Regions from separate parts of the Homo sapiens genome. Here regions 2, 3 and 4 are each linked to region 1. Evidence: fine-mapped expression QTL. A gene starts in region 1. Each other region holds a variant in brackets. All regions are shown on one strand. Distances are from middle to middle.

Region 1 (5,883 bases):
ATATATGTTATGTATACATATATGTATGTATATATACATGCATGTACATGTATACATTATATACATATAAGCATACATATATGAACACATAAACATGTATGTAGATGTCTATAGGTACATGTTTATATGTTATATGTTTATATTTATACGTGCATATTATAACATGTATTTATATGTAGATGTGTACGTATATGTACATGTTTTATGTATCTATACATATATGTACATATATATTTTAAAGTATATATTATTTTTGTAAAGAAAAGCATGCATATTTTAATAAAGAAAAATTATGCTTTATTATATATTTATATATTATATTTATATATTTTATTGTTTTGTTTTTTTTTTCTAGAGATAGGCTCTCACTTTGTTGCTCAGACTTAACTTGAACTCCTGGGCTCAAGCAATCCTCCCACCTCGGCCTCCCTAAGTGCTGGGATTATAGGCGTGAGCCACCACACCCAGCCTTATTTACATATTTTATGTGATACATTTATACTATGTATGATGTACAAAAGTTATACTATATTATATATAATAATTATGAATATATAAATTAAAATATAGGTGAAAATATTCCTTTAGGCCCCCTACGAGGAAATGACTTAAGATTTGTTGCCAAAAATCACAAAGTGAAAGCAATTACCATTAGGGCACACACCTGTGGCAGGAAAAGAAAACATTTCTGACACCCCTCCTAATACTCGTTTTGAGACATGCCACCAAAACCGTCCACTTGTAAAAATGAGTCAGGCTGGAGTGTGCCAGCGTGTCAGCTCCTCATCCCAGAAGTAGGGTGGTTTCCACCCCCACATAAGGAGGAAGTGAGATCAGGTAGGCTATGTGACTTCTCACAGACCCAGCATGTGGCTGCATATGAAGTTGCGAAGAGACAGCAGGTGGAACTCTATGAAACCCCGTCCTTGTAGGTCAAGGATGGTTGAATAATAGGGACCATTGCGTAGGGTTCCATTCTACAGAGTAACTTCCCAGCAATGATCATGCAGTGCCTCAGAAACTGCTTCCTGCCCTCTTGGTCTTGTCTTGTCTTTTCTTTTTTGAGACGGAGTCTCACTCTGCCGCCCAGGCTGGAGTGCAGCGGCACAGTCTCGGCTCACTGCAAGCTCCGTCTCCCGGGTTCAAGCGATTCTCCTATCTCAGCCTCCCAAGTAGCTGGGATTACAGGTGCACGCCACCACATCCAGCTAATTTTTGTATTTTTAGTACAGACGGGGTTTTGCCATGTTGGCCAGGCTAGTCTCAAACACCTGACCTCAGGTGATCAGCCCACCTCAGCCTCCCAAAGCGCTGGGATTACAGGCGTGAGCCACCGTGCCCAGCCCGTCTTTTCTATGTTTTTAAACCAAGCATTGCTTGAAAATAATCCTTTTTTTACTTTTTTTTTTGCTTATTTTTTTTCTTTTTATCTTATGTTTATTATTATTATTACTATAATTTTTGAGACAGAGTCTCTCTCCGTTGCTGAGGCTGGAGTACAATGCTGCGATCTTGCCTCACTGTAACCTCCGACTCCGGGGTTCAAGCAATTTTCTTGCCTCAGCCTCCCGAGTAGCTGGGATTACAGGCATGTGACACCATGCCTGGCTAATTTTTCTATTTTTAGCAGAGACAGGGTTTCACCATGTTGGCCAGGCTAGTCTCGAGCTCTTGGGTTCAAGTGATCGGCCCACCTCGTCCTCCCAAAGTGCTGGAATTACAGGCATGAGCCACTGCGCCTGGCCTTTTTACTTCTTTTGTTTGTTTGTTTATTTACTTTAAGAAATGTTTTCTTTTTTATTTTTATCTTATCTTTATTATTTCTTATTTACTTCATTTACCACTCAACAAATAACTTCTTTAAAACATTTTTTTTTGAGGCAGGGTCTTGCTCTGTCACTCAGGCTGGAGTGAAACTGCAGCTTCAACCTCCCAGGCTCAAACAATCTTTCCACCTCAGCCTCCTGAGTAGCTGGCAGTAGAGACACATGCCACCATGCCTGGCTAATTGTTTTATTATTTATAGAGACAGGGTCTTGCTATGATGCCCGGGCTGGTCTCGAAGTCCTGGGCTCAAGCGATCTTCCTGCCTCAACCTCCCCAAGTGCTAGGATTATGGGCATAAGCCACACTGCCCAGCCTAATATTTTTTATTTTTGAAGAGACAGCATCTCACTTTGCTGCCCAGGCTGCTCTGAAACTCCTGGCCTCAAGCAATCTTCCTGCCTCGTCCTCCCAAAGCGCTGGGATTACAGGCATGAGCCACCATGCCAGGTTGGATATGATCATATTATAGCCAGCACCCTGTGTAACAGCACAGGCAATCACTTAAAAACCTAAGGACACTGGCAGAATACGGTGACTCACATCTGTAATCCCAGCACTTCGGGAGGCCAAGGAGGGCAGATCACTGGAGCTCAGGACTTTGAGACCAGCCTAGGCCACATGGCAAAACCCCGTCTCTACAAAAAATAAAACAAAATAAAAACCTAAGGAAACTGACCACTGGTTTGGTAGACGTGGGCGTGGCTTTGAGATTCCCCCATGCTGCGATGTGGGGGGAGTCTGCTCTGTCTGTCCTAACTCTCTCTGATCTTCTGACTTGGGAAAAACAAACTCGAAGTTAATCATTCCCAGCTCAAAGCCTTGTGCAAGTGCTCTCTGCCTTCACGCTTGCTTCCTTTGGGAGAGAACCTTCCTCTTCTTGATCGGGGATTCAGGAAGGAGCCCAGGAGCAGAGGTGAGTCCTGTGAATGTTCATTTGTGCTGGATTTGGGCTCCGTGACCAGGCATGAATAGCGTGGTGAACAAAGAGCTCCCCGTTCCCTTTTCTGTCTCTGAATAATTGCCCAGTTTGTTTTGATAAAGCAGAAACGTACCCGTGACTTACAGGCCTAGGAATGCAGCTCTTTCCTGGAGAAGGGGGATCTGTTTTCTAATCTGCAGGAGAGGCCTTGGGCAGGCCCCATGCTCTGGGTCACCTCAATGTCACAGTTTCCAAAATTAAACTCATTCAAGGCTGTTATCACCATCTCTTTATTTATTTAACGTTTTTCTCCAAGAAAAAATATTCATATTTTTACTTATAAATACATAACATTGCGGGAGAAAGAAAAATTAGGTCGGGCACGGTGGCTCACGTCTGTAATCCCAGCACTTTGGGAGGTCGAGGCGGGTGGATTGCTTGAGCCCAGGAGTTTGAGACCAGCCTGAGCAAAAGAGGAAACCCCACCTCTACTTAAAAAAAAAAAAATCAATAGCCAGGCATAGTGGCATGTGCCTGTAGTTTCAGCTACTTGGGAGGCTGAGGTAGGAGGATCGCTTGAGCCCAAGAATTTGAGGCTGCAGTGAACTATGGTCGCACCATTGCTCTCCAGCCTGGGTGAAACAGCCAGACCCTATCTCAAAAAAAAAAAAAAAAAAAAAAAAAGGAAAAGAAAAGAAAAATTAGAAAAAGAGCACTTTTCCTAAATCTCCACACCCAGAGATAAACCACTGCTGGGCAGGATTGCTGCAAAAACCATCTTCCCCTAGTTTGTGGTGGTTTGGGGTTTTCTCATTACATTTGTACAGTATTTTGCTTTTATTCCGTTTTCTGACCATTGGCAGCATGTCATTGTAGGTCAGAAAGCAATGCTGAGGGTATTAAAATGCTCATTTTGGTTTTCTCTCCATGTACAATTTTAAATCAATCTCTTTCCCGGTGAAGATGCTATTAGGTTGGTGAAACGTAATTGCGTCTTTTGCTATTACTTTTAGAATATGAGAATTGTGTGTGCTCTCTAGGGTAAAACAAACGAACAAATAAACAAAAAAACCTCACGAGCACGGCGTACACCTTATCCCTTCCTTCTGTGTTCTAAACAAAGCACAAATGATATCTAAGGTCTTTTTCTCTTCGACAGACAGAAAATTATTGGAGATGTAGCAATTCAGTGTTAGACATCCATCAATAATGTAAGAAGTGCATTGATTCGGTCTGGAAAGGCCGGAAAACTTGAAGCAAAGGCAGGAAGACTGTAAGCAGGGAGGGGGCTTCCAGGTCACAGATAGGTGAGAGAGGAACAGTTGCCTTCTTTTGAGTTTCTGATGAGCCTTTCCAAAGGAGGCAATCAGATACGCATCTATCTCAGTGAGCAAAGGGGGGACTTTGACTAGAATGGGAGGCAGAGGCCCTAAGCAGTTCCCCGCTTGACTTTTCCCTTTAGCTTATTGACTTGCGGGCCTTGAGATTTATTTTCCTTTCACAAAGCTCATTGTCTTTCTCAGAAGACTGGTTTTGTGCCTGAATCCTGCTAGGAGCAAACACCCCTCCCAGCATCCCCGAAAAGGCGTTGAGGGGAAATCCCTCAACCAATCGCTTCTCTCCCACTCACACCCTGGGGTTTCGCAGCCCTGCGGACCTTGCCCACCCCTCCTCTCTGCCCTCCCCGCTCCCACACCAGCTGTGTCTATCCTTGGTCAGGTTTCACCTGGACAGACACCACGGCCACTTCTAGGCTCTCAGTGCCTGCTGGCTCCAGTGTGTCCTCACTCACTGGCCGCTCGGCCCTTCTAAAAGTGGCCAGGTCACTCCCCTGGTTACTCAGAGGCAGAAACCCAACACATCTGCATGCTCCTGTCTCTTTATCTTCTATGCATGCCCATGTCCTGTCAACGAAAAGAAGCGAACTCTGTAGAATATTTGAAGAGATTTATTCTGAGCCAAATAAGAGTGACCATGGCCCATGACACAGCCCTCAGGAGGACCCAAGAACGTGTGCCCAAGGTGGTCAGGGTGCAGCTTGTTTTATACATTTTAGGGAGGCATGAGGTGTCAATCAAATACATTTAAGATACACATTGGTTTGGTCCAGAAAGGTGGAACAACTCAAAGTCAGGGGGCTTCCAGCTTATACATAGATTTAAACATTTCCTGGTTGACAATTGGTTGAGTTCATCTAAAGACCTGGGATCCTAGGAGGCTGAGGCAGGAGAATCACTTGAACCCGGGAGGCGGAGCTTGCAGTGAGCCAAGATCGCGCCATTGCACTCCAGCCTGGGCAACAGAGCAAGACTCCGTCTCAAAAAAATAAAAAAGAAAGATTAAAAAAAAAAAAAAAAAACCCTGGGATCCCTAGAAAAGAAATCTTCAGGTTAAGAGAAAAGATTGTGGAGACCAAGGTTATTTTGAAGTCTTGTAGCGGCTGCCCTTAGAGACAATAGATGACAATTGTTTCCTATTCAGACTTTTAAAAGGTGCTAGAGTCTTAGTCAATCTTTTCAGGATTGGAAGGGTCCGGTAGAAAAAGATGTGAATATCTATGTGAATAGAGATTCTTTACATCTTTACAGATGCAAATTTTTCCCCACAAAGGACAGCTTTGCAGGGCCATTTCAAGATATGGCAAAGAAACATGTTTTTGGGTAAAATATTTTGATTTTCTTATTGGTCTCATGTTATGCCAGAGTCAGATTGGAAAGTAAGTCACAATATATAGTTAAATGAAACCCTTCTGATGAGAATTTTTGGTTTGTAGGGCATGACTCTCCAGACCCCTTAGATAGGAATTTGGGCAAGATAAAAAGAAAAATCAGAGCTTCGTCCTCAGTCCCATGCACAAGCCACATGGGGTCAGACCACTGCAGTACCCTGAAGGTGACCTCTTGCTGCCTGCAACTCTAATTGTTATCTTCCATCTCATTCCTTTCCTGCTCTACACCCTGGGCTCTCCCTCACTTCTCGGCGAGACTGAGGGGCCGCCCCTCTGTGCTTTGGGGGTCGCCCGTTTCCCTCTGTGGACAGAACATTTCCAAGTGTGGGCAATGGTCGCCCCCTCTCCCGGCAGCACCTACCCCTAGCAATGAAGGCGAATGCGTCTCTCCTTCATGCAGCACTCAGTG
Region 2 (5,883 bases), 38 kb after region 1:
TCTCCAAAATGTAGCTGGAGGCGCGTTCTGTGCCCGGGAAAGACGCCAGACAGCAGAGCCCAGGGATGGGGGGCGACTGAGGGGACGAAGGGCGGGTGGAGGAGACCGAACTGAAGGGAAGGCGGAAGGGCAGGGAAAGAGAACAAAGGAGGAAGGGAAGGGAGGGCGGAGGAAGGCTGGCCGGGACCCGGAGGGAGCGGAAACTGGGCCGGTCACGCCCTGCTGGGTCCTCCGCCTTCCACGCCCAGCTACACCGCTGCCCGGATTCGGCCTTCAAAGGCTCCCTAAGACCCGCCCCGAACCGCGCCCCCCGCTCTGCCCCACTAAGACGCGCCCCGTCCCGCCCCAAGGCTCCATCCCCCGAAGCGTAGCCTTGCCCGCCCCACTTCCTAAGAGGCACCCCGTCCCGCCCCCAACCCCCCAGCTCGATGCCTTCCAGCACGGCCGTGTTCCCCGGGTCCACTAAGACGCTCCCTGTCCCTCCCCAACGCCCCGTCCTCCCGAGCACAGCTGTGACGCCCTCCCGATTTCTAAGAAGGCCCCTTCCCGCCCCCCGCCTCTTCGGCCCCACCATGACATGCTCCATCCCGCCCCCCGGCCCTTTGCCTTCCCAGCACGGCTGTGCCCTCCCCCTCATCCCACTAAGACGCGCCCCGTCCTTCCCCCAGACCCCATCCTCCCAAGCACGGCTGTGACTCCCCCAACACGCTCGGTAAGACACGCCCCTTTCCCCCCCGTGGGCTTCATTGGGCGCCCTCCCCCCAGCACCGCCGTGCCTACCCCGGTCACCCCCCAAGACTTCTCTGTCCCGTCCCCATCTCCACCACAAGCGCGGCCGTTACTTCCCTCTGGCCATCCCCCGGCGCCTTGGCCTTGTGCCGCCTCCATGTCCCCACCCTCTAGCACCGCCATGCCCCGCTGCACTTCCTCAGATGCGCCGGGTCCTGCATTCCCAGCTTCATTTGCGCCCCAGTGCCACCGGTAGAGGGTCGTGACTGCAAGTTGTCCAGGTTCTTGGCGTTTTGAACAAAGAATTGGACAAAACGCCCAGCAAAGAAAGAATGAAGCAACAAAAGAAGGAAAGCAGGGATTTATTGAAAACAAAAGGACACGTCACAGTGTGGGAGCCGACCAAGCAGCGGCTCAAGGGCCCGGGTACATAATCTTCTTGGGTCCAAATACCCCCTAGAAGTTTCCCATTGGCCACTTCATGCTCACCTCATGTAACTGAAGTGGTGGCCCGCGATCAGTCTGATTGGTTGCAGGCAGCAGCCAACCAAAGGGTGAAGTTACAAAGGTCACACTCCTGTGCAAACATCTGATTGGTTGCAAAACCCAACTAATCAGAGACTAGGGTGAAGTCACAAAGTTGCACACGAAGACTAGACCCGAAATCAGTCCGATTGGTTGCAGACAGCCAGTCTACTATCTACCCAATAGAAAAGGTCAAAGGGAAGCCTTCGGTCCTTTTGTTACTTAGGCATGGAAAGTTAGGATTTTCCCGCCAGGCGAGGTGGCTCATGCCTGTAATCCCAGCACTTTGGGAGGCCGAGACGGGTGGATCACCTGAGGTCAGGAGTTTGAGACCAGCATGGCCAATATGGTGAAATCCCGTCTCTACTAAAAATACAAAAATTAGGCCGGGCCTCTACTAAAATTACAAAAAAATTAGCCGGGCGTGGTGGCAGGCACCTGTGATCCCAGCTACTCAGGAGGCTGAGACAGGAGAATCGCTTGAACCCTGGAGGTGGAGGTTGCAGTGAGCCCGGATCATGCCATTGAACTGCAGCCTGGGCGACAAGAGTGAAACTCCATCTCAAAAAATAATAATAAAAATTAAAATTAAAAAAAAAAGGAAAGTTAGGATTTTCCTTTCAATTTACTTCTAGGAAGTCGGCATGGAAAGCCTTAGGTTCCCTGCCTCCAGACCCTATTCTCCTGCCTCAGCAGCACTGCCGTGCCTCTCGCCACCCTCCAAGACACGCCCCGTCCTGTCCCCTTCCGCGGCCATTGCCCTGCTGGCCACACCGGATCCCTCCCCATGGCCTTATTCCTCCCCTGCCCCCCAGTAGAGCCGTGTCCCCTCACACACCCTGAGACACACCCCTCGTTCGCGTCCTCCCCGGAGAGCACAGCCACGATCCCCCAACACTAAGACACCACCTATCCACTGCAGTTCAAGGACTGCTTGAATCAATCCTCCCACCTCAGAATCAGGCAGAGGTTGCTGTAAGCCACCATCATGCCACTACAGCCTGGGCAGCACAGCAAGACCCCATCTCAAAAAAAAGAAAAAAAAGAATAATAAAGCAGATTGGTTGTTTCAAAGTTACTTTTCTTACAGGGTTAAAGCACGGGAGACTTTGTTAGCTCAGATGAACTACACATCTTCTTCTTGCTTACTCAAATCTTCTGTTTTTTGGAAAACTGACCTGTTTCCCTGTTCAGCTTGACGATGTGGCAGTTAACACAAGTGACTCCATTCCAGTTTGTTCTGACCTGTATGGTCTAGTGTGGCAGGCCAGGTCTCACTAATGCAGGCCTCCGTAACAACTGTTTCAGCACTGACTGAGTGTGAAGTTACATACTAAAAGCTGAAACAACCAGCGCCTTTATGCACAGGCTGGGATGTAACAAAAGCACACCAAGAGTTCTGCCCAGGCCTCTCCTGGGCCTTTGAAGCATGACAAGATAACGAAGGAATTCTTAACAGGACCCATTTAGGATTAAACAAGTTTTATTGTGGGTCTGAAGAAACTCCCCAGACCTCCACAAACAAGCTTTGTTGGGGACTAAAGGAACTCCCCAGAACTCTGTGATTTAGCAGGAGACAAGATAAGGGTAATCACCCCAGCACCTGGACCCATCTAGATTAAGTCAATTCACCGAGGCTCCAGAGGAAGGTCTTCAGGACTCAGATCTTAATTACAGATTAGAAGAAGTTAATCACTTATGTCTTTAGATAAATGCACACTTACACTTAGACATATAGCTTTGAAGGTATATAAGCTCTGGAAAGCTTTGTAATTTTGAGTTGGTTGGGAGAGAATTTCCAGGCCTTCCTCCTGTAACTGGTTACAGAATTAAAAACTCTCTTCTTTCCCAATTCATCTGCATCTCGCTATTGGGTCACAAGAAATAGCAGTCTGACCCTCGGTTTGGCCCAGGGACACCAGTGCAGGAATTCAGGCCAAGACAATAACCTCCCATAAAGCTGAACGTCTTAATTTAGTGGTAAGACCTTCGCCTTCCCAGC[G/A]AGCTGCCTTGAAATGCCTACTTCCCTTGCCAAATTGTAGATAGTCATTTCTGTGTTTCGCTTTTCTCTCCAGGGACTCTTTGCCGGTGCTACTGTTTTTATGCTTGCTTCTGAAGACGTGTGAACCTAAAACTGCAAATGCCTTTAAACCAAATATCCTACTGATCATGGCGGATGATCTAGGCACTGGGGATCTCGGTTGCTACGGGAACAATACACTGAGGTACAGTTGGTTGTTGCTATTGGTGATGATGTTATGTGAGTTTGACGGAATGGTGCATTTAAAATCTGCCTGGAGAAATTAGGAAACTCCTTAGGGCCTCAGAACTCAACAAAAAACTACCAACAGGTAAAAAGGCCCTTTTAAACCATGCGGAACTGCGGTGAGGGGGTGAATGTATTACTACCACAAAATGGGTAGCTTAAAACAACGGAAATTTGTTCTCCCAGGTCTGGAGACCAGAAATCTTAAATCCAGGTGTGGGCAGGGCCGGGCTCCCTCTGGGGGCCCTATGGGAGGATCCTTCCGGACTTTCCCAGCTCCTGGGGGCTCCAGGTGTCCCTGAGCTTGTGGCCACATCACTCCAGTCTCTGCCTCCGTCTCCACGGGGCCTTCTCCTCTGCGTCTGTGTCCTAATCTCCTCATCCTATAAGGACACCGGCCATTGCAGCAAGGCCTGCCCGCTGTAAAGATCTCATCTTCTGTTGATGACGTTTGCAAACAACGTCTGTTGTGGGCCAAATTCTGGCCTCCTCCAAATTTGTAGGTTGAAGCCCTAACCGCCGGTACTTCAGGGTGTGACCGTTTTCAGAGATGGGGTCTTTGAAGAGGTAATTAAGTTAAACTGAGGTCCTTAGGGTGAGCCCTAATCTGATATGGATTACTAAAAGAGGAGATTAAGACACCAACAGAGCTCCCTGAGAGGCTGTAGGGGAGGACCCTTCCTGCCTCTCCCAGCTCCTGGGGGCTCCAGGCATCTCTGGCTTTGTGGCCACATCACTCCAGTTTGTGCCTCCGTCCCCATGCGGCCTTCTCCCCTGTGTCTGTGTCTCCTCCTCTGTCTCTCAGAAGGACACTGGCCATTGCATCTGGGGCCCTCTCTAAACCAGGATGATCTCATCTCGGGATACCTAATAACAACTCCAAAGACAGTTTTTCTAAGCAAGGTCTCACACACAGGTTTGGGGGGTCAGCACGTGGACAGATCGGTTCGCAGACCCCCATTCAGCCCACTGCAGTGGCATGTGCAAACACAGAGTAGTAGCCTCTATGCCAACCTTACCAGCAGAGCGCTTGAGTGGTGCTCACGTGCTTTCTGCAACAGGAGAAAAGGTGAGAAAGCTCCTTATTCCATTTGGTGGGCTTTTCTCCTAGAAGGACCGCCCCAGAATGCAGGCTGCATCTGCTTTTCAATAGCTGCCAACCTCAGGAGCGGTCCCCGCAGAGCAGGGCCTCCCTTCTTTGCAGTGAACATTGCAGCACCTGCAGCAGTCTGCCCTGTGTGGGCCGGGCACGGTGGCTCCCGCCTGTCATCCCAGCATTTTGGGAGGCCAAGGAAGGTGGATCACTTGAGCCCAGGAGTTTGAGACCAGCTTGGGCAACATGGCAAAACCCTGTCTCTATGAAACATACAAAAAATTAGCCAGGTGTGGTGGCGCATGCCTGTAGTCCCAGCTACTCAGGAAGCTGAGAGTGGAGGATGGCTTGAGCCCGGGAGGTGGAGGTTATGGTGAGCTGAGGTTGCGCCACTGCATTCTAGCCTGGGCCACAGAGCAAGACCCTGTCTCTAAGTCAATCAATCAATCAATCTGCCCCCTGTCCAGGGATCCCCTTTCGAACACCCTGAGCAGGCCTGGTTGTAATTCACAGAACATGCGGTTCATCTGTTTACAGTGTACAGTTCAGGGACTTTTATTCTATTCATGGAGCTGTGCATCTGTCACCACAAACCATGTTAGAGCATTTGCATACCCCCAAAGAAACTCTGCATCCCCTTAGCCATCACCTCCAGCGAGGAGCGAATCTGTGTCCCCTAAACGCCTACGTCGAAGTCCTGACCCCCAGGACCTCAGACTGTGACTCTATTTGGAGACTGAGTCTTTAGAGACGTGATTCAGGTAAAATGAGGTCACTAGGGTGGGCCCTGATCCAATAGGACTGGGGTCCTTATAAGAAGAGGAGATGAGGACACAGACACACACAGAGCAATGACCACCTGAGGACACAGGGAGAAGATGGTGTCTACGAGCCCAGGGTGGTGGCCTCAGGAGGAACCAGCCCTGCCCATGCTTGATCTCAGACTTCCAGCTCCCAGAAATGTGAGAGAATAAATGTCTACTGGGTTTGTTTTTCTGTTTTATTTTGTTTTGTTTTTTGAGACAGGGTCTCACTCTGTTGCCCAGGCTGGAATGCAGTGGCATGATCACAGCTCACTGCAACCTCCATCTCCTAGGCTCTCACCTCAGCCTCCTGAGTAGCTGAGACTACAGGCACATGCCACCACGCCCAGCTAATTTTTGTATTTTTTGTAGAGACAGGTTTTCACTATGTTGCCAAGGCTTGTCTCGAACTCCTGGCCTCAAGTGATCCACCCACCTTAGCCCCCCAAAGTGCTGGGATGACAGGC
Region 3 (5,000 bases), 170 kb after region 1:
GTGGACGAATGCTATGAATCACAAGACCAGAGCCTTTTGAGGAGGAAGAACTATTGTAGAGCTTTCCAGGAAATGGAGTTGAAGCTATACACCCTGATGAAGGGATGTAGCGGTAAGTCTTTCATTCATGAATCCAGCTGTTTGCCTGTTGGGACTCAAGCATTAATGACTTCACTGACCTTCACCTAGGACTCATTGTGTGCCAGGCACAGCTTTCCAGACTAGGGAATGCAGCAGTGAATGAAAGGCAAAAATCCATGCCCATGTAGAGTTCTCATTCTAATTCACAGGAATCAACTAAACACAATTGCACGGTGTTGCATGTAAGAACATATCAAGCAGTATGGAGTACGGGAATGCAGAGGGAGGAACCACCTCCTGGGGGAACATAGTCTAGGATACAACGCTGTGGTTTTGGAGACTTGCAGGAGGTGGGTGAGTGGGCAAAAGTGTGTTCGTTTTTCTAGGGAAGAAACACAATTCTTCAGTTGCAAGACCCAAGGGAAAAGGCACTGGGACATACCCAAAGCTTGTTTCCTTGGATTTCACGGAGTGCCTTGAACCCTAGGAATATGACAACATCCAAGCAACGTCCTGAAACAATCACAATCAGGGGAACTCCCAATGGTTAAAGCAGGTGGAGAGAGGAAGACACCCAGTGTATCTTAGCTTCCTCAATCTGCACACATTTGCCCCACCAATGGAATCGCTGAGACTCTTCCAACTTTACAGACCAGCATCTCTTTCCTGAGTGTCTCACGTTCGTGAGACACAATTGCCAAGGCGGAGATGGGAAGTGCTGTAGGAACACAGGCAAAGTGGCCGCAGATAACTCTTGCAGAGGGAAGAATAAGTGAGTAGAACACAGACCAACAAAAAAAAAAACAAGAAAAAATTGCCTTCCTCCATCATAACTTGAAATGTCTTAGTGTGCATGGTATTTTTCAGTCAATGTCATCAAAAACATTTAAATTTATTTACTATCAACTAAATGTAATCCCCAGGTGCTGGTGGATAGTAGAACTGAACTCCTCGCAAAACAATGTCTGTGCATTTCAAAAGCAATTGGTCTTTCACCATGGAGATGAGAATTTTTAAGTCATTAAATAATACTTGTATCCAACCACCCCCCCGCCTTTTTTTGAGACAGAGTCTCACTCTATCACCTAGATAGATTGTGCATTGGCACAATCTTGGCTCAAGGCAACCTCCGCCTCCTGGGTTCAAGCGATTCTCCTGCCTCAGCCTCCCCAGTAGCTGGGATTACAGGCACGCGTCACTCTGCCCAGCTAATTTTGTATTTTTAGTAGAAACAGGGGTTCACCATGTTGGCCGCTGGTTTCAAACTCCTGACCTCAGGTGATCTGCCTGAGGAGACCTCGGCCTCCCAAAGTGCTGGGATTACAGGCGTGAAGCACTTCTTTTTTTTTTTTTTTTTCCTTTTGAGACAGGGGCTCGCTCTGTCTCCCAGGCTGGAGTGCTGTGGCGTGATCTCAACTCACAGCAGCCTCCGCTTTGCGGGTTCAAGCGATTCTCCTGCTTCATCCTCCTGAGTAGCTGGATTACAGGCATGTACCACCACGCCCGGCGAATTTTTGTATTTTTAGTAGAGACAGGGTTTCATCATATTGCTCAGGCTGGTGTCAAACTCCTGACCTCAAGTGATCCGCCCACCTCGGCTTCCCAAAGTGCTGGGATTACAGGCATGAGCCACTGTGCCTGGCCCCAAACACTTCTAAAATGGACTTTAATACTGATTATCAGGCTGGGCCACAATAGCTGGTGCCTGTAATCCCAGCATTTTGGGAGGCTGAGGCAGAGGATTGCTTGAGGCCGGGAGTTCAAGAATAGCCTGAACAACACAGCAAGATCCTGTCTCTGCAAAAAATTTGAAATATAGCCAATATAGGTGGTGAAATATAGGTGGTGCAATGTAGGTGGTACACATCTGTAGTCCTAACTACTTGAAAGGCTGAGGGAGGAAGATTGCTTGAGCCCAGGAGTTCAAGGCTGCAATTACATCACTTCACTCTGGCCAGGGCAACAGAGCGAGACCCTGTCTCCAAAATAAATAATAAAATAAAATAGTAAAATAACATAGAATCAAATAAAATAAAGTAAAATAACATAGAATCAAATAAAATGGTAAAATAAAGTAAAATAACATAGAATCAAATAAAATAGTAAAATAAAATAAAATAAAATAAAATAAAAATAAATAAATAAATACTCATTACCTCCACTGTTGCC[G/A]GAATTGCCAGGCTGGGGTTGAGGGCGTGGCTTTGGCCTTGGGTAGATATCTGTTGGAAAACAACAGTATGATTTCAGAAAAATAATGACATCTTTCAGGTAGATACCATCTATAAATAAGAATGCCAAAGTACAGAAAAGATGTTACTGCCCATTGCTTTTACGGAGCTTATTAATCATGTAGACAATATTCATAATACCACCTCAGAGCTTACAATGAAAAAACAAAAACTTACACCACTGGTGCTTTCGCAAGAAGTCCAGGGCTCTCTGAAATTAACAGGGCAGAAAGTGCGTTGTTGACCTTTCCCTGTTTAGGGCTACTACAGATGCCAGCACCATTTACAGAAGTCAGTCACTTCTATAAATGTTAGGATGAAACATCTGACCTTTTGATAGTGTGTTGTATTTCCATCTTGCTTGAGTTACACCGTTTCATTTGAATTTGTGTTGTTGTTGTTTTGAGACAGAGTCTTGCTCTGTTGCCCAGGCTGCAGTGCAGTGGTGCAATCATAGCTCCCCGCAGCCTCGAGTTCCTAGGCTCAAACAATCCTCCCACCTCAGCCACCCATGTAGCTCAGTCTACAGGTGCATACCACCATAGTTGGCTAATTTTTAAAATTTGTGTAGAGACAAGGTCTTGCTATGTTGCCCAGGTTGGTCTCAAATTCCTGTTCTTAAGCAATCGTCCTGTCTTGCCTTCCCAAAGAGCTGGAATCATCATAGGCATTAGCCACACTGAGCCTGGCTTCATTTGAATTTCTTAAAACTTTTTGCAATGACTTTTGCATGTTCCTCAAGTTTACCATGAGCTTTCTGCCCTAGGACTTTTTTTTTTAAGACGGAGTTTCGCTTTTGTCGCCCAGGCTGGAGTGCAGTGGTGTGATCTCAGCTCACGGCAACCTCTGCCTCCTGGGTTCAAACAATTCTCCTGCCTCAGCCTCCCGAGTAGCTGAGATTACAGGTGTGTGCCACCACGCCTGGCCAATTTTTGTATTTTTAGTAGAGATGGGATTTCACTATGTTGCCCAGGCTGGTCTCGAACTTCTGACCTCAGGTGATCTGCCCACCTTGGCCTCCCAAAGTGTTGGGATTACACGCATGAGCCACCGTGCCCAGCCCTGCCCCAGGACTTTTGCAGGTGGCATTCCTTCTGTCATGACCCCTCCTGTTCCCTGTCCATCACTTTACACTCTCCCTAAATATTTGAAGAATCCATTTGTCATCTGGAAAAGCATTAATTAGCTCGTCCCTCCTGTCTCAGCTTAAATGTCCTTTGACCCTATTCAAGAAGCCGAAATGAAATAATCAGTGCAAGCTCTTTGCACGACATGAGTCTGTATCTTCAGCACCTTTTTGTCGCTGGACTAGAAACTTTATTTTCTGTACCCATTCTATATTCCTGGTACCTGGCACTGCCAGTACCTGTCAAGTGCTTATCCACATTGGCTCAAGAGTGAAATTACTTTAATTCACAAAAAAGGCAAGGATGCTGTTCTCAAAGTCCTTCCTCAGGACAGACGTCTCAGAACACTGGAAATCTGGGCTGAGAATGACTGGTTTTTCACTTCTCAAAATAGTCTCTCTCTCTTTCCCTTTCTCTCTCTCTTGAGACAGGGTGTTGCTCTGTTGCCCAGGCTGGAGTGCAGTGGTGAATCATAGCTCACTGCAGCCTCCACCTCCTGGGCTCAAGTGATCCTCCTACCTCAGCCTCCTGAGTATAGCTAGGACTACAGGCATGGACCACCATGCCCTGCCTAGACTCTCTTTTTTTTTTTTTTTTTTTGAGAAGGAGTTTTGCTGTTGTTGCCCAGGCTGGAGTGCAGTGGCACAATCTCGGCTCCCTGCAACCTCCGCCTCCTGGGTTCAAGCGATTCTCTGGCCCCAGCCTCCCAAGTAGCTGGGATTACAGGTATACACCACCATGCCCAGCTAATTTTTGTATTTTTAGTAGAGACAGGGTTTCACCATGTTGGCCAGGCTGGTCTTGAAATCCTGACTTCAGGTGATCCACCCACGTCGGCCTCTGAAAGGGCTGGGATTACAGGCATGAGCCACCACGCCCAGCCTAGACTCTCTTTTGAGGTCTCTAAAATGATACAACTGTGGGGGATTATGGAAACTTGGGGGCCAAACAGAGGAGTGGGGACTGGACACAAGGGAGCTTTGGTTTCCAGGCCAGAAGGCACTGCCCGGAGCACGAGCTGCATATTCGTGGCTTGGTTCAGGAAGTCTCTGGGTACCTCACTGTAAGGTCAGTCCTCCCTCAAAACGCCTTCATCTGTGAGCTTCCCTCCTCCATTCACACACAGAACCTCCAACTGCATTGATTCCTGGGCTTACTCCTGAGGCCTCTCTCCTTGGCTTGTAGACACCATCTTCTCCCTGTGTCCTCACAGGGTCGTCCCTCTGTGTGTGTCTGTGTCCTCATCTCCTCTTCTTATGAGATGTCTTAGTCCATTTCAGGCTGCTATCACAGAATACCAAAGACTGGGTGGCTTATAAACAACAGACATTGATTCTCCCACAGTCCTGGAGGCTGGAAGTCTGAGATCCAGGTGTGGGCTGGGCTGATTCCTCCTGAGGCCTCTCTCCTGGGCTTGCAGATGCCATCTTCTCCCTGTGTCCTCACAGGATTGTCCCTCTGTGTGTGTCTGCGTCCTCATCTCCCCTTCTTATGAGGTGTCTTAGTCCATTTCAGGTTGCTGTCACAGAACACCATAGACTGGGTGGCTTATAAACAACAGACA
Region 4 (5,883 bases), 840 kb before region 1:
CTGCACCCAGCCCCAGATAATTTTTCTTATTTATTTATTTACTTGAGACAGAGTCTCCTTCTGTCGCTCAGGCTGGAATGTGGAGTGCAGTGGCGCGATCTCGGCTCACTGCAACCTTCACCTCCTGGGTTGAAGCGATTCTCCCACTTCAGCCTTCTGAGTAGCTGGGATTACAGGCGTGTACCACCACACCCGGCTACTTTTAGTATTTTTAGTAGAGATGGGGTTTCACCATGTTGTCCAGGCTGGTCTCGAACTCCTGACCTCAGGTGATCTGCCCACTTCGGTCTCCCAAAGTGCTGGGATTACAGGCGTAAGCCACTGCGCCCAGCCCCAGCTAATTTTTTTATTTTTTGTAGAGACGGGGTCTCGCTCTGTTGCCCAGGATGGTCTCAAACTCCTGGGCTAAAGAAATCCTCCCACTTCAGCTTCCCAAAGTGCTGGAATTATGGGTGTGAGCCACTGCGCCCAGCAGGAAGCACTTCTTGGGTGTCAAATGTGTTTACCCCAAGTGACTTTCCTGAGGCTGCCGTAATACAGTACCACAACCTGAGTAGCTTAAAACAACCGGAATTGATTGTCTCCTGGTCCTGGAGGCCAGGAGTCTGAAATCAAGGAATGTCGGGGCTGCGCTCCCTCCGAAGGCTCTAGGGGAGGCTCTAGGGGAGGCTCTGGGGGAGGCTCTAGGGGAGGCTGTACAGGAGTCTCTGGGGGAGGCTCTGGGGGAGGCTCTAGGGGAGGCTCTAGGGGAGGCTTTGGGGGAAGCTCTAGGGGAGGGTCTGGGGGAAGCTCTAGGGGAGGCTCTGGGGGAGGCTCTAGGGGAGGCTCTAGGGGAGGCTCTGGGGGAAACTCTAGGGGAGGCTCTGGGGGAGGCTCTAGGGGAGGCTCTGGGGGAGGCTCTGGGGGAGGCTCTAGGGGAGGCTCCAGGGGAGGTTCCTTCCTGCCTCTCCCAGCTCCTGGGGACTCCAGGCATCCCTGGGCTTATGACCGCATCGCTCCAGTCTCTGCCTCCATCTGTACGTGGCCTTCTCCTCTGTGTCTGTGTCTCCTCTTTCATCTGTTAGAAGGACACCTGTCATTGGATGCAGGACTCTCCCTAACCCAGGATAAGCTCCTTTTGGAATCCTTAACGAATAGTATCTGTAAAGACTCTATTTCCAAATCAGATCCCATTCACAGGTTCTGTGAATTTAAAGGGGTTAGGATCCTCAGGTGGAGGATCCTTCCTGCCTCTCCAGCTCCTGGGGGCTCCCGGTGTCCCTGGGCTTGCTGCCACATCACTCCAGTCCCTGCCTTCTTATGTGGCCTCCTTCTCTGTGCCTGTCTCCTCTTCTGTCTCTTAAAAGGATACTTGTCAGGGGACTCAGGGCCCACCCTAATCCAGGATGAGCTCATCTTGAGATCCTTAACCTACATCTGCATCACTTACTTCACACACATCCTTCAGTACATCTGTGAAGACCGGATTTCCAAATAAGGCCCCATTCACAGGTACTGGGGGTTCAGCTTTCAACATATGTTAGTTGGGCATATGATTCAACCCTCAACAAAGGAATGTGAATCCATGGTAAACTCTTCTGTGCTTTCAAACATTTATCTAGCCCCTTCACTATACAGGCTTTCTCTTTCTGCAAATTTATTTTTACAAATAATAGCCATAGCTGTGATTGTTGAAGCACTCATGATGTGCCATCCACTTCTTAACTTCTTTGCAAACTACAATCATATAATTGCCACCCAAATCCTACCAGGAAAGTACTACTGTATTTTATAAATGTGGAAACAAAAGTTTGGAGACATTAAGACAAGTCTAATATTTCACAGCTAAAACATGGTGGGTTTCCACTCCGAAGTATATCTCCAAGAGAAATGAAAACATGTGCTCACGTCTGCTCACGTAAACTCTCAAACACACATTCACAGCAGCATTATTCATGGTAGCCTAAAGGTGGTAACAACCTCAAATGGCCTGTCAGCAAATGAATGTGTAAACTAAATGTGGTCCATCCATATCATGGAATATTCTTCAGCCCTAAAAAGGACTGAAGCTCTGACACAGGCCACCACATGAGTGAACCTTGAAGGCAATTTGCTAAGTGATGGAAGCCAGTCATAAAACGCTGTGTTCTGTATGATCCCATGTAAAGGATAATTCAAAACAAGGAAGTCTATAAAGATGGAAAGTAGATTTGTGGTTGCTTAGGGATGGGGGCAGGGGGTGTTAAGGTGGTTATAGCTAAAGGGTACAAAGTGTCTTACCAAAGAAATCAAATGCTCGGCTGGGAGCGGTGGCTCACGCCTGTAATCCCAGCACTTCGGGAGGCCTAGGCAGGTGATCACCTGAGATCGGGAGTTCGAGACCAGCCTGGGCAACATGGTGAAATACTGTCTCTACTAAAAATACAAAAATTAGCTGGGTGTGGTGACGCGTGCCTTAATCTCAGCTACCCAGGAGACTGAGGCAGGAGAATCGCTGGAACCCTGGAGGCAGAGACTGCAGTGAGCTGATATCACGCCACTGCGGTCCAGCCTGGCAACAGAGCGAGACTCTGTCTCAAAAAAAAAAAAAAAAAAAAAAAAAAATCAAATGCTCTAAAACTGATAGTGGTGATGGTTGCACAACTCTGAATATACTACGAAACACTGAATTGCATGCATTAAGTGGGTAAATGATATCATATGTAAGCTATATCTCAATAAAGTTGTTAAAAAAATAGTTTCTACCCAAAGGAAAATAAATCATTCTACCAAAAACACACACGGACACATATGTTCATCACAGCACTATTCACAATAGCAAAGACATGGAATCAATCCAGGTGCCCATCCATGGCAGACTGGATAAAGAAAATATGGTACCTCTACACCAAGGAATACTACACAGCCATAAAAAGAACAAAATCATGTCCTTTGCAGTAACATGGATGGAGCTGGAGGCCATCATCCTAAGGAAATTAAGGCAGGAACAGAAAGTCAAATAGCACATCTTCTCATTTACAAGTGGGAGCTAAACATTGAGTACCCATGGACATAAAGATGGGAACAATAGACTCTGGGGACTGCTAGACGGGAGAGGAAGGAAGGGGGACAGCGGATGGAAAGGTACTTACCAGGTACTAGGCTCACTACCTGGGTGACAGGTCCATTAGGAGCCCAAACCTCAGCATCATGCAATATACCCAGGTCAGAAACCTGCACATGTA[G/C]CCCTGAGTCTAAAATAAACATGTAAAAAATTAAAAATTAAATAATTTTAATTTAACTTAAATTTTTAAAAAATTGGCCAGGCACAGTGGCTCATGCCTGTAATTCCAGCACTCTGGGAGGCCGAGGTGGGCAGATCACTTGAAGCCAGGAGTTCGAGACCAACCTGGCTAACATGGTAAAACCCTGTCTCTATGAAAAATACAAAAATTAGCCTAACTTGGTGGTACATGCCTATAATCCCAGCTACTCAGGTGGCTGAACGAGGAGAATCTCTTGACCCCGAGAAGTGGAGGTTGCAGTGAGCCAAGATTGCAGCACTGTACTCCAGCCTGGGCAACAGAGTGAGACTCTATCTCAAAAAGTAAAAATAAAAATAAAAAATTAGCTGGACATGGTGGTGTGTGCTTTTCATCCCAGCTACTTGAGACCGTGCCACTGCACTCCAGCCTGGGTGACACAGAGAGACCCTGTCATAAATAAATAAATAAATAAATAAACAAATAAATAAATAAATAAAATTAGAAAGACCCATAAGAGCATTACTCCACCAAAAACCAAAAATACTTCAAATGAAAAATAGCATGTAATTTTACCTAATGTGGAAAAGACAATGATTTGAAATGCATCGAAGTTTTGTTTTAATAAAATAATGATGAAGTAGTGGGTTGAAGATTCAAGGCCAGACTCACACCTGCGTACCTTCTCATCCTCTGAACACAATAAGGACACATTCTCTCCGTTGTATAGCGCCTTTTATAATCCATTGCACACCAAAAACTTTATCATCATTTCCCTGTTGCAGTTTCAATTTCTTCCCAGGTACTTTTCACAGCCCGTCTGTATCTTCTCTTCGTTAAACTTCTTCTTCCTATCTATAGATCTGTTTCACACAGAACTAACATCTGTGACCCAAATGGCACACTGCTATTTATTTAAATCTAAGATCGCAGATCTGGAAGAAATCATGAATAATCTAGTCCAGGTGTCCTGAGTCGTAGGTTAAAAAACATCTCAAGTGGAATCAACCCAAATGACCATCAGTGGATGAAGAAAAACACAACGTGGTCCATCCACACAAGGGAACATGATGCAACCCTAGAGAGGAATGCGGCTCGGAAACAGGTTACAGTGTGGGTGCACCTGAATAACAGCACACTCAGCGAAACGAGTCAGACACAAAAGACCACGTGCTATATGATGCCATTTATATAAAGTGTCCAAAATAGGCAAATCCACAGAGACGGAAAATACATGGCCATTAGAGGCTGGGGAGGCGGAATGGGAAGTGACTGCTAGTGGGTACAGGGTCCCGTTTTGGAAATATGAAAATGTTCTGGAACTAGATAGAGACGTGGTTGTGAACATACTAAATCTCACTGAGCTGTACACTTTAAAATGGTGAATTTTGCCAGGTGCAGCGGCTCTCGCCTGTAATCCCAGCACCTTGGGAGTCCAAGGTGGGTGGATCACCTGAGGTCAGGAGTTCGAGACCAGCTTGACCAACGTGGTGAAACCCCGTCTCTACTGAAAATACAAAAACTAGCCGGACATGGTGGTGGGCGCCTGTAATTCCAGGTACTTGGGAAGCTGAGGCAGGAGAATTGCTTGAACCCAGGAGGCAGAGGTTGCAGTGAGCTGAGATTGCACCACTGCACTCCAGTCTGGGCAACAGAGTGAGACTCTGTCTCAAAAATAAATAAATAATAAAAATAACAAAATGTTGAGTTTTATGTTCTATAAATTTCCTCTCCATAGAGAAAAAATTAGTCTTCTCCTAAGTCTCAAAACCTACGGTGGGCATCACTTCAGTTACCCCAAAAGTTAAGAGCCAGGGCCAGGCACAGTGGCTCATGCATGTAATCCCAGCATTTTGGGAGGCCAAGGTAAAAGGATCACTAGAGCCCAGGGGCTCAAGACAAGTGGGGCAACACAGCACGACCCCAACCTTACAAAAAATAAAAAACTAAGTGGGTATGGTGGAGCACACCTGTGGTCCCAGGAACTCAGGAGGCTAAGCTGGGAGGATCGCTTCAGCCCAGGCAGCCAAGGCTGCAGTGAACCACGATTGCACAACTGCACTCCAGCCTGGGCAACAGAGCAAGACCTCATCTCCAAAAAAAGTTTAATTTAAAAAGAAAGTTAAGAGCAGAGACAATCCTGTCCTCCCCATCCCCACATTGTCCAACACTCAACAGACAAACAGATACCAGTCTTCCTTTATATTTTTTTCTTTTTTGAGACAGAGTCTCACTCTGTTTCCCAGTCTGGAGTGCAGTGGTGCAATCTCAGCTCACTGCAACCGCCGCCTCCTGGGTTCAAGCAATTCTCCTGCTTCAGCCTCCCAAGTAGATGGGATTACAGGCATGTGCCACCACACCCGGCTAATTTTTGTATTTTTAGTAGAGATGGGGTTTCACCATGTTGGCCAGGCTGGTCTCAAGCTCCTGACCTCAAGTGATGCGCCCACCTTGGCCTCTCAAAGTGCTGGGATGACAGGCCTGAGCCACCGCGCCCAGCCCTTCCTTTATATTTTCGCATGGCTTCATCTTAAAAGATTTATCTGTGCACCTCTTTGGGGAAATTTTTGCAAACAAATATTTCTGTCTGGCCATTGGGAATTTGAAAGATGTTTAAATCTTATTGACTTTACAATCTTTCGTGGGTTTCCTAGAAGACAAC

Evidence for each region. PIP is the estimated chance that this variant, and not a neighbour inherited with it, causes the effect.
Region 2: its variant is fine-mapped to the expression of ARSL in transverse colon (GTEx, PIP above 0.99).
Region 3: its variant is fine-mapped to the expression of ARSL in lung (GTEx, PIP above 0.99).
Region 4: its variant is fine-mapped to the expression of ARSL in stomach (GTEx, PIP above 0.99).

Annotation. Positions count from the first base shown.
Region 1 is chrX:2,961,081-2,966,963 of GRCh38, reverse strand. ARSL (arylsulfatase L) reads left to right here and starts at 2,623. Exons shown (of 11, transcript NM_000047.3): 1 at 2,623-2,740. RefSeq lists enhancers at 925-984, 2,315-3,138, 4,789-5,614, 5,615-5,883.
Region 2 is chrX:2,923,212-2,929,094 of GRCh38, reverse strand. It overlaps ARSD (arylsulfatase D), which reads left to right. Exons shown (of 10, transcript NM_001669.4): 2 at 3,330-3,479. Among named protein-coding and RNA genes, the nearest start is that of ARSD, 3.2 kb to the left of the region's middle. RefSeq lists silencers at 1-88, 109-268 and enhancers at 4,240-4,749, 4,750-5,260. The variant G/A (reference allele first, on the strand shown) is at 3,257.
Region 3 is chrX:2,786,944-2,791,943 of GRCh38, reverse strand. It overlaps XG (Xg glycoprotein (Xg blood group)), which reads right to left. Exons shown (of 11, transcript NM_001141919.2): 5 at 2,238-2,300. Among named protein-coding and RNA genes, the nearest start is that of XG, 37 kb to the right of the region's middle. The variant G/A (reference allele first, on the strand shown) is at 2,251.
Region 4 is chrX:3,797,204-3,803,086 of GRCh38, reverse strand. No RefSeq gene overlaps it. Among named protein-coding and RNA genes, the nearest start is that of TRI-GAT1-1, 38 kb to the left of the region's middle. The variant G/C (reference allele first, on the strand shown) is at 3,204.